Linked DNA regions of Homo sapiens: region 1 is linked to region 2. Evidence: fine-mapped expression QTL. A gene starts in region 2. The other region holds a variant in brackets. All regions are shown on one strand. Distances are between the middles of the regions.

The links. PIP is the estimated chance that this variant, and not a neighbour inherited with it, causes the effect. A credible set is the group of variants that fine-mapping cannot tell apart.
Region 1: its variant is the best candidate, but not a certain one, in a credible set for the expression of ZNF385D in whole blood (INTERVAL, PIP 0.71).

Annotation. Positions count from the first base shown.
Region 1 is chr3:22,551,427-22,559,777 of GRCh38, reverse strand. No RefSeq gene overlaps it. Among named protein-coding and RNA genes, the nearest start is that of ZNF385D-AS2, 600 kb to the right of the region's middle. The variant A/T (reference allele first, on the strand shown) is at 3,387.
Region 2 is chr3:21,747,818-21,756,168 of GRCh38, reverse strand. It overlaps ZNF385D (zinc finger protein 385D), which reads left to right and starts at 4,959. Exons shown (of 8, transcript NM_024697.3): 1 at 4,959-5,274. The coding sequence starts at 5,253.

The sequences.
Region 1 (8,351 bases), 800 kb before region 2:
CAAGTGCTTTGCCCATTTTTAAACTATTTGTTTTTGAGTTGTAGGAGCTCTTCATTTGTTTGGTGATTTGAAGATATATGATTTATAAATACTGTCTTTCATTCCATGGGTTGCCTTTTCACTCTGTTGATTGTGTCCTTTGATGAGGAAATGTTAAATTTTGATGTAGTCCAGTTTATCTAGTTATGCTTTCATAACATACTTACCTAACATAATTTAGAATACAGTGCAATGATAGTTATAAAATGTATAACATGAATAGGATCATGTTAACGGAAAAAGTAGGAAAAAAAACTGTAAATAAGAAATCCCTAATTTAAAACATCAAAAACTAATGAATTAAGTCCCACAATGGTAAACTGAATTTTTATTTCTGAAATAGACGGTGTTCATGTTATGTATGCTGTACTTAGGTTCTAAAAGCACATTTCACACTATTTAAATAGAATAGTTTATCAGAAAACAAGTCAAACAGAAATACATGCTTTTTAAAGAATGCTTTAATCGTATACCACCAAGTATTTAAATTATAAGGCACAATACATTTATTTATGTAGTAATATATTATCCAACATATTATTGGATAATAATATTGGTAACTTTTTTGCACAAGTTATTTGAGGCTTCTTAAAATGCTAGGCAGGTTTTATTAAAGATGACTCTCTTCCTATTTATTCTACTTATTTGTATTTCTACTTATCCTTATTTGTAGCAATACAGGCATGCTTCATCATGTCAAGAAACTTTGTACTACATTCAAATTTTACCTCATACATTTATACATTCGTCTATTCAATTATTTTATTTTCAAATGTTTGCTGTGGATATGATGGTGAACAAGAGACATAATGTGTCTGTCCTCATGGAGCTTACATTTTATTAGGGGAAGATAGATATTATACATGGAATAGGTAAGCAAATCTGGCAATGTCAGAGAGGGAAAGTTTCTATGAAGGCAATAAAGTAGGAATAGCAACAGAGAAGGGGAGAACTATTCTCCAGAATGCTGGCATTGCTTATTTTACTTGTATCTATATCTAGGAGAATACTGAAAAGTTTTCTGTTAGCTAAAGTATGGTTTTCATGCTTAGTTCTTTTTTAAAAAAATCTTCAACAGTTCTTACTTTTCCATTTCAATAAGAATTTCAATGCTAAAATTTTTGGATCCAATAATTCAAACCACGAAAGAAACTTTTAGTTCTAGGATATGTGTAATGTGTGTAATGTTTGTCACAGTTTCAGTGATACTTATTATAGCATAAAGTTTCAAGATCTTGACCAAACTTAGGGCAGAGTTTTTTCCAAATTCCTTTATGATTGAACTATGGCTGAATATGATACTAGGCCTGCCAAGTTCTGTTGTTTGGTGAGAAAATTTTGTGGTATCAGTGTCACCAAGACTGTTTCAACTGTCTAGTATACAGGTATAGGAATTTACATCATCTGATTCTAGAACAATAGAATAAAAAGTTTTCCTATTTCCTACATTAGCAAAACAGCTTTCTTATCATCATTGGTTCTATGGGCCTAGCACTATCATGGGCTTCAAGCATCTCTTTGCTTGCCTTGAAGGAGAGCACTCACTGTGCAATGGGACCATTTTATCTCACAGAGTAGATTTAGAATCTTTTATTCTTGATTCTTGTTGACTCAAACCATCAAGAATTAATTTCCCAAATAAAAGATTTCATTGACTTTTTTTGGTTTTTAATTTTATGGGCCATGCATGTGCTGTCCATTTCAAGTACAGCAAAGCAAAGGAAATTCACAAATTGAAGAAGATCTACAAAATTAAAAAGTAATTATGAAATAAATGTTTGCATTGTATATACATGGTTGTAGATTGGCTTATGTGTCCCAATATGGAAAACATACTTAAGTAGCAATCTTTTGGCAATGGTATATGTGAGTTTTGGTGAGTACTGCAGTTTTAAGTTAGAAGGGTTATAAATATAGGGGTCACATGTCAAGCTGTTTTAAGGCAGATACTCTCTATTTAACATGATCTAAACTTCAGGTTAAAAGAATCTGCACCCATAACAAAATATTTATAGTCTCAGATTCCTAAGAGAATAAATGATATCTTTTGGTTCTCTGACCCCACCTTCTCAGATAGCTTCTTGAAGAAAGCAGAAGCTTACTCATTAAAAAGTAAGTGCCATGAAGTAGCAAATTTGGAGGTGGAAATTAGGAAGAAATATCCTTGGGTCCTGAAAGATATGGAAATAGATTTAAAACACATTATTGAGAAAACTAGGAATAGGGAGAAGGGGTGAAATTCTATTTGTTCTTTTTCAATTTGAATTTAAGTGATTCATGTATTACTTGTATTGAAAGGAGAGAATAGAAGTATCAAGTTGTTTTCCCTTATGTTTTTCTGCAGGTTGTGAAAAACAAACTATTAGAATATTAGAATTAACAGGAATTACAATCCTCATCTCCACCTCCGCATTTCGTAGATGGGAAAAGAGAGGTGCAGCCATGAGGTGACCTACCAAGGTCACAGAGCTAGCTTGACACAGCTAGGTTCCTCCACTGTCTCCCCTTCTCTGGCTGCAGGGAAGAGTTCAGCCTGGGTAAGACAGCCTCACTCTTCCATTTTTCAGCCTGAGTAATGAGGAGGGTGGAGATGGAAATGGCTATATCTGTGACGTGAATGTTGTTTTCACTGCCTCTATACAAGTGAGTTATTTTCATTCCTTCCTGATGTCCTTGATTTTTAATTGTAAAATGAGTGACACTTTGAACTCCCTTATAGTTTGGCTTTATTTTCTGCTACCACCAGTATGTACAAATTGTACAAATTGGAATCTTTCTCAGAGTATCTGAAGCTCTACTTTCTATCAGAAAAAGAAAAGCTGACAGGCAGTTTAGATGTATCTTTTCCTTTTTCTTTTGTGAGCGTCTTGTTGCACTGCAGGTCAATTGTCAGAAATATTTATTTAGCTGAAGTTCTCTTTCTGAGCCGACTGAGGCAAAAAGTGGTTGATTGAAAAGTCAGTGTACATGGGTTCACCACTCTGCAATCAACAGGACAATCAAAGGTGCTGGAGTGTTTTTTTTTCCAGGTTCAGGTTGCACTGCATCATGCTTGTACATACGATGCTCAGCATTTGAAGTTTAAATATTGCTGGGACTAAGAAGCCACATAAATATGACCTGAACTCTGATTGCCACCAAATTGGAATGGCATGTCTAAAGATTTTAGAGTCAGCCTTGAGTTTTGTGGCTTTACAAATTTGTAGAAGCTTTGCGAGTGTAAATAAAACTTGGAGTTTCACTCAAAATCCTGAGGAATGAATACATATATGCATAGACATACACACTTCATTGTAGCAAGCCGCTGAGGAAAACTGACAGTGCCTTGCGCTTAGAGAAGATAAAGG[A/T]GAAACACATGTACGTTGCAAGTCACAATTAAAATTCAGGAGCAGAAAAGAATTTACTTTCTATCTTTTCTGACCGTTAGTTGGAGGTTGGTTGGTTGAGGTTTTTGGCCTGTGTACAGACTTGTTATCTGAGGGTACAGTGCAGGAAAACTCATTTAGTCATCATCATCATCACCAAAATCACCACTGCCATTCTGCCACCAAATACCCGTTGCTGATTTGAGAACCTGCCACATAAGGGCATAGCACAAACAGCATGAATTGGCAGAAAGAGCTTATTCTTCTTTAAATTTTCATGGCTGGGCAATTGGCTAAGTTGCAATTTTCAAGTGACCTTCTCTCACTAAACCATATGCACACATACTCGGTCATGTAACAGCAGTCCTTTTTGAACATCTACTGTTTGTCAAGCACTTACAGGCACTAGGCATCTCTACTGTTGAATGTGATAGACATGCTCCATGCTCTTGTGGAGCTTAGAGGAGATGATAAAACAATTTTAAAGTGCTAAGTGCTCTGAGCTTGTGCAGTCCAGAAAATGTCACCAAGGAGAGAATACTTGAGCTGAGTCTGCAGGGCTTAGGCAGCATCATGTGAATATCTGGGGCAAGTCTTGCAAGGCAGAGGGAAAAGCAAGAGACAGAGCTTTAAAATAGAAATAAGCTTGAAGTATTTGAAGAACATAAAGAAGGCTAGTATAGTGGGACTATTGAAAGCAAGGAAGTAGATGGAAGAAAATGAGATTAGAGAGGTATGGGAGGGCTTGGTCTGGCTGGGCTACATAGAGAATAGTGAGGGTTCATGCTGGCACACCCCTGGAGGGTTTAAGCAGGGGGTGAGATCGGACTGCGTTTTAGAAATGTAAGGAATAGATTGATTGCAAAGTGGATGATAATGTGTGTTTCGTGAGGAAGGGATTTGTATCTGTTTCATTCACTGCTGTATCTCCAGCCCTGGAACAGTGCCTGGCAAATAAGAGGTGTGTGAGAAGTACCTGTTGAATGTACAGATAGGTATGTGTGTGTGTTCTTATGATTTTTTTTGTATTTTATTTTATTTTTAATTTTATTATTATACTTTAAGTTTTAGGGTACATGTGCACAACGTGAAGGTTTGTTACATATGTATACATGTGCCATGTTGGTGTGCTGCACCCATTAACTCGTCATTTAGCATTAGGTATATCTCCTAATGCTATCCCTCCCTCCTCCCCCCACCCCACAACAGTCCCCAGTGTGTGATGTTCCCCTTCCTGTGTCCATGTGTTCTCATTGTTCATTTCTCACCTATGAGTGAGAACATGTGGTGTTTGGTTTTTTGTCCTTGCGATAGTTTGCTGAGAATGATGGTTTCCAGTTTCATCCATGTCCCTACAAAGGACATGAACTCATCCTTTTGTATGGCTGCATAGTATTCCATGGTGTATATGTGCCACATTTTCTTCATCCAGTCTATCGTTGTTGGACATTTAGGTTGGTTCCAAGTCTTTGCTATTGTGAATAGTGCCGCAATAAACATATGTGTACATGTGTCTTTATAGCAGCATGATTTATAATCCTTTCGGTATATACCCAGTAATGGGATGGCTGGGTCAAATGGTATTTCTAGTTCAAGATCCCTGAGGAATTGCCACACTGACTTCCACAATGGTTGAACTAGTTTACAGTCCCACCAACAGTGTAAAAGTGTTCCTATTTCTCCACATCCTCTCCAGCACCGTTGTTTCCTGACTTTTTAATGATTGCCATTCTAACTGGTGTGAGATGGTATCTCATTGTGGTTTTGATTTGCATTTCTCTGATGACCAGGGATGATGAGCATTTTTTCCTGTGTTTTTTTTGGCTGCATAAATGTCTTCTTTTGAGAGGTGTCTATTCATATCCTTCGCCCACTTTTTGATGGAGTTGTTTGTTTTTTTCTTTTAAATTTGTTTGAGTTCATTGTAGATTCTGGATATTAGTCCTTTGTCAGATGAGTAGGTTGCAAAAATTTTCTCCCATTATGTAGGTTGCCTGTTCACTCTGATGGTAGTTTCTTTTGCTGTGCAGAAGCTCTTTAGTTTAATTAGATCCCATTTGTCAATTTTGGCTTTTGTTGCCATTGTTCTTATGATTTTTAACAGCTTTGTTAAGTGTCCTTTTCCCCTTCTAGAATTGCTGCATGTACTTATTTTTTCCCCTAGAAAATAGTTCTATTTATTGGAAGTTCAACTTTTTTCCCAAAGCATATTAGTAATTTGTTTTCTTTTATTTAGTCTATACATTTTATATATACGAATTATATTCCTAAAATTCCGTGCAAAGCCCTGTGCTTTTCTGACTTGTTAATCTGCTATTAATTATATTTTAGACCTTTCCTTTTTTTGTAAAAACAAAAAACAAAAAAAAATGCACCAAGAAATTTTTCTCACAAAAATTTCATTTTCTTTGTGTGTTTGTGTGTGTGTGTGTGTGTGTTAATTTAATAACTTAGTCACTAGAGATAGCTTTATTGGTTCCTTACACATTCAGCTCTATTTTATTTGCTCATTTTCTCTTTTATTATTTTACAGGATTTTGTATCAGGGTGTTTAAATTGTGCTTCTTTGCCTTGTCTCACTTCTGTAAATATATTTTAGGTTCCTAGAGAGGGCTATTTTTCCCTTTACTTGTCTGTCAAGGGTGCTTATTACTTGAATAGCACATTATAGTCTGTCTGGTGCTAGGACCACACATAATGGTAAAACTTGGACGTTTATAGAGATATTACCTCTAGACTCTACTAAGTAGATGCCCATATTGCCTTTCCTTGAAGTATTTCAGTAGCCTCTCAACTGACCTCATTGTCTATAGTTTTTCTTCATTCCAAGTTATCCTCCACTTAATGTCTCTGCTTATTAAGACAGGGGTTTGCTGATGTCACTTCCTCACTTACTTACAAAACTTTTGAAGATTCTACCTTATGTATAAAATAAATATTGGTTACAATAATGTACAATTTCAGACCTCTTACCATCTGACTCTCCCTACCACATCAGCTCCATAACTCATTTCCCTACCACCCACACCACCGTGTAGAGTTGGGCCATACTTGATTACATCCTCCTTCAATCGAAAGCACCCGCAGCCTCCTGTCTTTGTTTACATTTGTCGTCTTTGCCTGCTTTTTTCATCTCACCAAAATCTTCTCCTCCTTCAAGTGTCTCTGCAATGCCATTCTCAGACGTCTTGGACAAAACTGATGCTCGGGGAACTTTGCTTATGCTGCTGTTCTTCCTTCTTGCCTACCTGTTTGTCTTTTCCCTCCGCTCCCCTCCCCTTGCCTTCCCTTCCCACAGGGTCTTGCTCTATTGCTCAGGCTGGAGTGCAGTGGTGCAGTTATGGCTCATTGCAGCCTCAACCTCCTGGGCTCAAGTGATCCTCCTGACCCAGCCACCTGCGTAGCTAGGACTACAGGCATGCCCCACCATGTCTAGTTAATTTTTGTATATATTTTTTTCTTTGTAGAGACAGGATTTTGCCCTGTTGCCCAGGCTGGTGTTAAATTTCTGGCTCAAGCAGTTCCACCCATTTCGGCCTCCCAAAGTGCTGAGATTACAGGCGTGAGCCGCCACACCCAGGCTTGCTGTTTTATTTCTAAACTATTTCTGTCATATTTAATTGGTGACATATCTCTCCTCCTTACTGGTCTATGAATGCCTTGAAGGTGGGGGAAGAATTTGCTCATCATTTTATCACCAGAACCACATGCAGTGTTTGACCAACTGCATGGTCAGTTGAATACTCACTGAATGAGTATTCAATACTCGATGAACAAGGGAGTGACTGAGTGACCGAGTGAATAATTATGTTTGTAAGCACAGGTTGAATTGCATGGCCAGCATCATTCTCTATATTGGCAAAACTTTGTCATGTAAGGGACTCTGAGATGCTGCTATTATTGAGACAAACACTAGCTGATTGGATCACCTTGAAACTTGAGCCAGAGTAGTTGGGAGAAGGGTTTGCTCTTAAATATAAGGCATCTCAGCTATTATCCTTTTTCTGGAATGACACTGCATTCATAGTTCATGCATTTACTTTGAACAATATTTAAATAAACTTCTTATTGAAGTGTAACACTTATACATAAAAGCGTACTAGTCATAAGGAGATGGCATGAGAAATTGTCACAGCCAGGCAATCAGCACACAGCCTGTAACAGGCATTACTGATGCTGTGCATCATAGCCCTGCAGCCCACCTGGATTCAACTGCATGTGGGAAAGATGGGGTCTTGCACTTTCTCTGTCACAATGAAAAACTGTTGATAGAAAGAGGACGTGGGTGGTTAATTCCCATGGGGCAACCCTCAAACAACAGGTTGGGAGTCTGGTCCTAGGTGGCACAGACTGCTCATCCTCCTCATCCTCATCCTCCATCCTCATCCTCCAGTGAAACATGAGCAGGACAAACCTGTTCCAAATGGTTCTCAGAGAGTTAACAGCAGCAAGAATAAGCCCATACTGTCTGCAGTGGCATCGGCTCATTAGTGCAACTTTCTTTGCTTGCTTTCCCTTCTTCCCTGTCTTACCTTCTCCATGTCCTCACTTGTACTTTATGTGATCAACTCTCAAATTACATGCATCCAAATCCCTATTTCAGGGTCTACTTTCGAGAAGAGCCCAAGCTAAGACACCAGATAAGAAGCAGAATACTAGCAGAATGCTATCAGCATCCCAGAAGTCTATTTGTGCCCCTTCTCAAGGACTATACTCTTCTTCCTGCCCAAAGATAATGACTATTCTGATACCATAGATACTTTGCCATTTTTAAGTTTATATAAATAGAATTATGCAGTGTTTTCTTTTGTTTTGATTTCTTTCATTCAATTAGGTTCATGAGATTCATCTGTTTCATTTTGTGTAGCAAGTTTATTCTTTTTACTGACATTGTATTTCATCGTGTAACTATATCACAATTTGTAATTTATTCATGAGGATATTTTG
Region 2 (8,351 bases):
ACAAAGGCTTCCTAACCCGTCACCTTACATCTGTCCTTGCTCGCTTTAGTCAATTCTTCATACGTCAGTCATAGTGAACTTGTTGAAGCATGTCAAATCACGTTGCTCCAAAGTTATATCATGTAAGTCATAATAAAAGTCAAAGTATTTCTAATGGCCTAAAAAGTTCTACTGAATTTGGCTCCATCTTACCTATTTGAAGTCAACTCTTGGTTTGCTTTTTAAGATCTACTCTACTCTAGCATATTGGCCTTGTTGTTCTTCCTGGCACTCATAAGGTGTATTCCCCATTTATCCTTTGCACTTTCTGCAGCGTTCTTCATCCAGCACCTGGAGTAATGCCTGGCACATGATAGGCATTCATAAGATGTTAAATTTATTCAAAAATGTTGAATGAATTCATAGATAAATAATGAATTTGTTCATTAAACGATGGATTTGTATGAGGTCATGGAGTTAAAAAAGAAAATCCTCTTTCATTTGGGTTACATACAAGTAAAGGCAAATTCCCACACTAAGTTTAAATGCTATAGTAGGAATTAGTACAGTGTGCTATGTGAAAAAGAATACAAACAACACCTCATTTAGTCTTTTGGTGAGAAAAATGTTCTCAGAAGACATAATATTTAAACAGACACCCAAAGATTGATTACAGATTGCTTCAGTAGAGAGAGCAGGTGAAAGGGAATGTAGTCTTCAGGTGAATTATAGCCATACTTTAGGTTTCACACAGTGAAGAGTGTGAAGGACAAAGTATTTACAAATGGAGAAGCGAATAGGGACTTGGTTGTCGAAAACCTTAACGACCTTGGTGGATAAAATACGGAAACAGTGAAGAATACTGAGCAAAGGAGTGGCATGATCATACCATTTTTAAAGATGATAATGGATCTAATATGGAGAATGAATTGGACATGGGCAAGTCTGAAATCAGGAACACTGGATACAATTTTATTGCTACAATATAGATAAAAGATAAAGGTGGACTAAACTAAAGCCAAGGGCGAGGCAATGGAAGACACAACTGAGCTATGCTAACTCATGCTGAATCTAAGTCTCTGCTCCATGCAGCTATGAGAATTTGAAAGGACAAACACACTCACAAACTGTGGCCTGCAGTACCATCTGGCATCTGTACTGAATGGAATTTAAGAGCAGCTGCTGCTAAGCATGGACAAATTCAATTTGTGTGAACACTTTGCACAAAACACAACCAACCTCAAAGAACTGACTTCAGGCACATAGAAAAGTATGATGTCTTACACACAATACAGCTGTACTTAGGATGCTCATTCATTCATTCCCTCATTCACAAATATTTATTGTATAATGACAAGTAGCAGGTACCTTTCTAAGAACTGTAGATATAGCATTGAACAGATAAAATCCCTGCCCTCACTGAGATTATATTCCAGTGAGGAGAAATCAAAAATAAACAGACGTCTAAAATAGTGTGTCAGATGATGATAGTTGCCATGGAGAAAAATAAGGGAGGAAAGGAGGTTAAGAAATGTCAGGGGAGGGACAAAGGCATTTTAAAACTGGAAAAAAAAAAGACAGTGAATTAGTACACTGATAAACCTTTGAGCAATATTTGAATGAGATGAGGAGTCAAGGCAGGCAGCTACCCGGATCTTAGAACACAGAAAAAATTTTCACCCAACCATGATATTTTAATACAAAATATGTAAGTGGTTTGAAGGCATCCTTTGTTTTAATAGTGCTAGGTATAATTTTATCTGGCAAGCAGGTTGGTGCTACAGCTGACCCCAGATGAACTGACTTAATTCACCTTCAGAAGCTCCTAGGTTCTCACAGATTCTTAGAGACAGGTAAAGGTCAGGGTGTGAACCAGATTCTTCCCTAGAAGCTGCTAAGTCGCTCCCTTGAGATGACATATGAAAGCATCTCTCAGGCACAGCTGGCATGTTCACAATCCTCTATCTAGCCAAGATCAGCTGTGGTTTCATTTGGAAATTATTATGCTTCAAAATTAAAAAAAATAATATGTTGAAGAAATGTGTGTACTACCATGTTCATTGCAGTATTACTCACAGGAATCAAGCAAGGTTTCCACTAGTGGATGAATGGATAACAAAGATGTCGCATATATACATAATGGAATACTATTCAACCTTTTAAAAGAGGAAGATCCTCTCATTTGTGACAATATGGATAAACCTGGAGGACATTGTTGTCTTAAGTGAAATAAGCCAGGTACATAAAAACAAATACCCAATGATTTCACTTATATGTAGAGTGTAAAAAGGTCAAACTCTATAGAAACAGGAATAAAATGGTTACCAGAGCTGCAGGGTGAGAGTATTAGGGAGATGTTGCTCAAAGTACAAAACGCAAATACACACACACACACACACAACAACAACAACAACAACAACAACCACCAAAGTTGCATTTTTTAATAAATGTATACAAATAAATAAAATAGTTTTATGTAAAACAGGAAAAAGTATACAATTAAAACAAACATCACTTGTTTTCCATCCAGAGATAAACAACTTTGTATCTTAAGCTTCTACATTCCAGATAAGCCTTAATTGCAGGGAAGAGGGGCACATATCTTTAATTTAAAAGGGCATCTTCCTTTTCTGTTTGAACAGAATTACATTGTATAGATATTACACTCAATTGTTTCTGGAATGCCATATTCTTTCAAAGGCTACATGCTGTTTTTTGGGGTATACTACCAGGCAAAGATTGGCATGTTCTATTACCAGATGCTCCCTGCTGATGTATTTGTGACCATATAGATATATTTGTTTCTAGAACATGCAGTGACATTGTTTTATTGGGGGTGACTTTTACCTGAGCCATTATAAATAGCACATTTATTTGAAGAAGGAAACCTGTTGGAGAACTGTAATATAAATTCAACAAACAAATAGTAAGACAACTGTTTCTTACTCATCACATCATTAAGAAAGTTGCTTAACATCTCTGAGCCTCAGGTTCTTCATTTGTGACATCTGTAATATCCACCTTTCTATATCTCAATTTGTTAGTAATAAAGATGACATGTGAAAGTGCCTTTTAACTGTAAAATGTCATGCAAATGCAAGCGTGTTATTAATGATTAAGGTAGTCCTTTAATGTTTCAAATCTCCTATTTGAAACTCAACTCTCAATGCTTGCATCTTCCAACTACAGGAACTCAAATGGACCCAAAGCACTAACATTAAACTACAGTGCCCCCTAGCACATGTAGGAGGTCAAGGCAGCTTACAGGCTTCATGAATAAGCTCTACCACAGATGGTTCTTTTGCCTGAGGGAAGAACTACTAATTGTACTTTTGGACAATTTCCATTTGTCCAAAAGGAAAAAACATTTACGCATTTTCTTCAATACTTTCCCGTAACATTGTTTTTATTTTAATTTTTAAAAGGGAGTAAAAAAGTTAATATCCTTTACTATGTAAATTTTCCTCTGGTGGCTTTAAATTAAGAGTATTTCTAAAAGAACAGCCCTAGATTTATCTTAAGATTCACTGTGATGTTTCTGATTTATATTTGCTTACCTACTTTCACTCACCAAATTCTTTATAATCTAGCGTGAGAGAGGATATTGTTCATTGCACTCTTCACAGAGGTAGAATACAGTTAAGCTTTTATGCAAGATTGCACAGAAAGCCGTTATTATGAGCTTCAGCCCCCTAGTTTCTATGCACATTAAATCCACCAAGAGATATAGAATCGCGTAAGGAAATGCTATAGAATATTTTAATATCAAAATGTAGAAATCTTTGCTATCACACTTTTATAAAAGCCCAGATTAAAAATATATCAATTGCATTCTTCCATAGACTACAGTTCTTTGTTTATATTTGGTTCTTAATTTCATAAATGTCTATAGAAATTTATAAGTTCAAATGTTCCAGTACGTAAATTGGTTCCCAAAGTGATGAGTCCTTAGGAAACGGAACTTGCTGTATGAGTTTATTTTTTCCATGCTGTGCATTTAAGTATTAATCAGCACAGCTTTCAGGGATTTCTTTCTAATATCCTTTTCTATGTAAGATAAGGACTGCAATTCATTATACCATTGGAGGAGCCAGAGGCTTTGCTAAGCTTTGCCTTTCTTGACCGTTCATCTCAAATTTAATGAGAGCGTTGTGTGTGTGTGTGGTGGGGGGGGGAGGGGGGTGGGTGTGTGTGTGTGTGGCTATATTATATTGGTGACTGGACTCTAACTATGGCACAATGTTGGTTGCCTTTCAGGCTAATCGTCTCTCCGTTTCAGGAGGTCAAAGATCATTTCAGCCTCAGTGTGCTTTCTACCTGCCTACTAAGGGAGGCAGCAAATTTGGTCCTGGGCAACTGAGAGGTGACTTTTATCACCAGTTATTTTTCTTCACATCTTTCTATCAACATAATAGCTCAGGGAACACTCAAGAAATAAAAAATTACACTTCACCAAGTACTAGCTTTCTGGGATGTGATCACTTCTAAGTGTGAACCTCTATTACCCTAGCAGTGGTCCCTGGCGTTCCTTTTATTCCTCTTATATATAAACATCACAAAAAATAACAACAAACCCTCAAGCCCACAGCAAAGAGAATGCAAGCACGGCACCATCCCTCTTCGTACTGCCGTTTTAACTTGGTAGAGGAGGTTAAATTTTGGAGAGAATGGTGGCATTCACAGGAGGGGCGGGGTAAAAGTGTTGTCTAATTACACGTTAATGGCAGAACTCGCCTTAACCACGTCCCTCCTGCACAGTGGTGAATTTCTCCTGTGTGTTCCTGTGTGGATCCCGACACTCTTCTCGCTTTAAGAGAGCCTCCCGCGCCCCTCACTCCGCCCCTTCCCAAGTCTCTGGGCTCGTCAAAGCTTCCCGAGAGCCATGGTTGGTCCAGGCAGGCAGTCGGAGCACCTCGTGGAGCGGCTGCTAACCCAGGGTGGGGTGGGGTGGGGTGGAGGGGTCTGCTTGTAGTACTCTCAGTCCTGATGTCACAGGCGCGGCAAGGACATCGCAAGGAGGAGTCGGATTACAGTAAGGATGGGCAGTGCAGCAGGCAGCCCGAGCGCACTCTCCAGCCGCCGGGGATCTTAGCCCTGGAAAGGCAGCCTGCAAGGCGCTCATCCCGCGGAGGAGGCACGCTCTCGGCGCTCACTGCTCTCCACGCCGGGGACATTTCCACCGAATGTAGCATGAAAGGGCTCTGCTCTACGTGCCAGCCTTGGGTGAGAGCTGATGCTGAAGACACCGCGGTGGGATTCCAGCTGTCTGATTAATGAGAAACATAATGTATTTTGGTGAGTGTTCACTCTGATGATGTAATTCTGGGGGTGTCCGGCTCTTCATCCGTGCAGACAAGCCCTTAAAAAATTCTTTAAGCAGCAAGAATATGTTACATTAAACCTACCTCCAGTTGGCAACTGGAGGACCAAGCCGGTGCAGCCTTCAAAGCTTCCTTTGTGCCACAACTGGGGCTGTTAATTTAGCCGTGGATGAGTTTAAGTTGGAAAAGAAAAGAGACAGGGACATGTGGAGGGGGCGGGGGGGTAAACTTTGCCTTGATTTGCCTGAATGAAGTTGGCTCTTTTAGCTAGGTGAAGGAGAAATAGTGCAGCGTGGGAAGTCATGAGCTAACTTAATGGAATGTGAAACAAAGTTTCTATACAATTGATGCTGTGAAAGCTTAGTCAATATGAGCATTTCATTCAGTATTTGCTGGTTTTTCTTGTTCTGAGGCGGAAAAGGAAAACATTGTCTAGTGAGCAGTGTGGTTGAGCAGCTGAGAACACTTCTCTATATCATCTCAGTGCTCTGTCTAGCTAGGAGCAGCCTAGCACAAAATGCATATTATTTGAAACCTTTAGAGGTCTCGGAGATGTCAAATATTTGTGCAGGTCAGTTTTGTGCCACGGTAGAAACCTCAGTTAGGTTTTCAGTTGAGCTGCCTGCATTTCCAGAAAGCATGTTGAGGCTTGGATCCGAGCTATCAGTTGAGCACTGGAAGTGGGCTTGGAGCTGTGCATTTGCACTCTAACGCCGCAACTTACTGCTAGTACAGGAGGCAAGCCCCTTCACTAAATAAGAAGAAGTCAAAGATAAGGACTGAATATTTGTTCCTCCTCTCTGAAGTTATGCTTTCCTTCTGTAAGTCCTATCTGGCGTCATCATTTAAGGGCATCTATGCGATATTAAAAGGTTTGATAGAGCAACTGGAGAGGGGCTAGGAAATGTATCCAAGATGCAAATGCTCTGATTTCTTGGTTTGCTTTAAATATTAAATCTAGCGTCTTCTTTCAGATTAAAGAGGTATTTAGATAAACTTAGGTTGGGGCACTATTAGTTTGTTGGAAATTTATTTCTGTATGTACTATTTGCTCTGTTTTGTTTCCTTTAGGCTTTGAGACACTTGAGAGTGTGTGGAAGGAATCTAAGTTCCAAAAGCTAAATGCCTTTAGTTGTCTTGACAGTTTTGATTTGCCTATAATTTGTATCATATTAGAAGAGAAGTCTTAAAATAGCTGAAAATGATTTGGAAGAAACAATTTCATTGCATTGCCAAATTTAAGCAGAATCTGTAGTTAAAAACCATCTCTTTCCAGTGGGTAGTAATGGAGGTGGTAAGCTTGTTTATTGGCCACTAACAGAGTTTATCATGCATATATTTTCATAAATGGAAAAGCTTGTAAAGATAATAGGTCTTTTGGACAAAATACAATTTCAGCATCAGTAATGATACTGAAGGATGATGAAACAGATTATAATTTTAGTTTATATTTTCACCCTCTTGAAACAATTCCTTATGTGATCGTCGTGAGGAAGTAGGGCCAATTAGAATAGCAGTAGAGTCTAAAAGTACTGGTCAAAGGCCATCCATGCTGGACTGGATTATCGTGTGACTATTGGAGAAATGTTCAGTGGGCTAGCTTGTGTTATTAACTGTATGCTAGTTCAGCCTCTTGTAAAGCAGAGTGATTCATAGGGTAATCAATTTCATTGTGTAATGCAAGTTTTTAATAGTACGAATTGAAATGTGATGTCCTACTTACTTTAGATGAAACTCTACTCTTTGAAAGGCAAGGCTAAAGTTGCCCTCAGTGTCTTGAACATTGTCTTACCATAATTTTGGTATAAGAAATGTTTTTCTGCTCCCAGAGGAAATCCTATGTATTCAGGAATGCTGTTTCTTTCGGGTTATGCTATGCAGCTTCTCGTACAAGCTGTTAGATATCCACAACTTTGGGAGCCCACCTGTCTCTAAAAAAAAAATGTGTGGTACAAGAGCGAGGGCAAAAAGAATTGAGCAGTACACTTCAGGCATGTTAAAATTCAATAGCATCCTAATGTTTGAAAATGCTGAAGACTATGTATTTATATATGTATGTATGTACGCACACACATATATGTGTACATGTGTATGTATCTTAATGTGTGTGCGTGTTCAAAATTGTAGCGATTTCAGGTAATTTTTCCAAGCAATGCTTTCACTTTGCAAATTGGTTGGCCATTACTTTCTTCTTCATTTTTCAACTGCAAATGGTTTATCAAGTCAGGGAGAACAGGGACAAAGGGAAAGCAATGCTGCATTCTTAGGCTTTTCTGGTGACTTGTGAGAATGGGGTAGAGATGTCACAAATCCTTTATTTGTGTCCCCAGCAGAGCGTGATGAAGAGCATGGTGATGCTATGGTACGGGTGAATTGATATGAAAGCGGGATATTTACTTCCTTTATAAATCATCTGATTTGTCAGTGTTGCCCCCCACCCCCACCCCTTCAAATATAGCTGAAGAATCACTACCTGAATAGCCTGGCTCAGCCTATCTGCTTCAATTCATTCCTCCTTCCCCTTGGGACTGGACAACTGGACCCTGCCCTTGCTTAGTTGGAGTCAGTTGTGTGTGTGTGCAAGTTGGTGGAAGATGTAATATTTTCAGATCTCAAGAACAGCTCATGTTTGTAGTGTGCTGTCTCAGACTTGCCAGAATAATAGAGCTTTCTAATGACTTAAGCCTCACTCTTATCTCCTATTGAGATTTTAGTGCAGTGTTTTCAATAATCGTTCATTTGTACTTCCTGTGCTGTGATTTCAGAGTTTGCTGTTCAGTCACCGTGGACACTTTTGTTACTTATTCTATCAATCTTGGATCTTGCATTCACCATTTGGAGTTAAATATAAGGTTCACATGGGAGAAGGAAGCAGGGAAAATCTCAGTCAGCAACCTGAGTGGGATTTACTGTAAAAGCAAGGGAAAATAATAAATACTTATAAATTTACCCTCCCACCCCCATCAATGTTTTAGATAGTTAAAAATTACATGTGCCAAAGATGAATAGCCATTAATAATTTATCCAGAAATAAAAGCAAGGCAGCTGGGA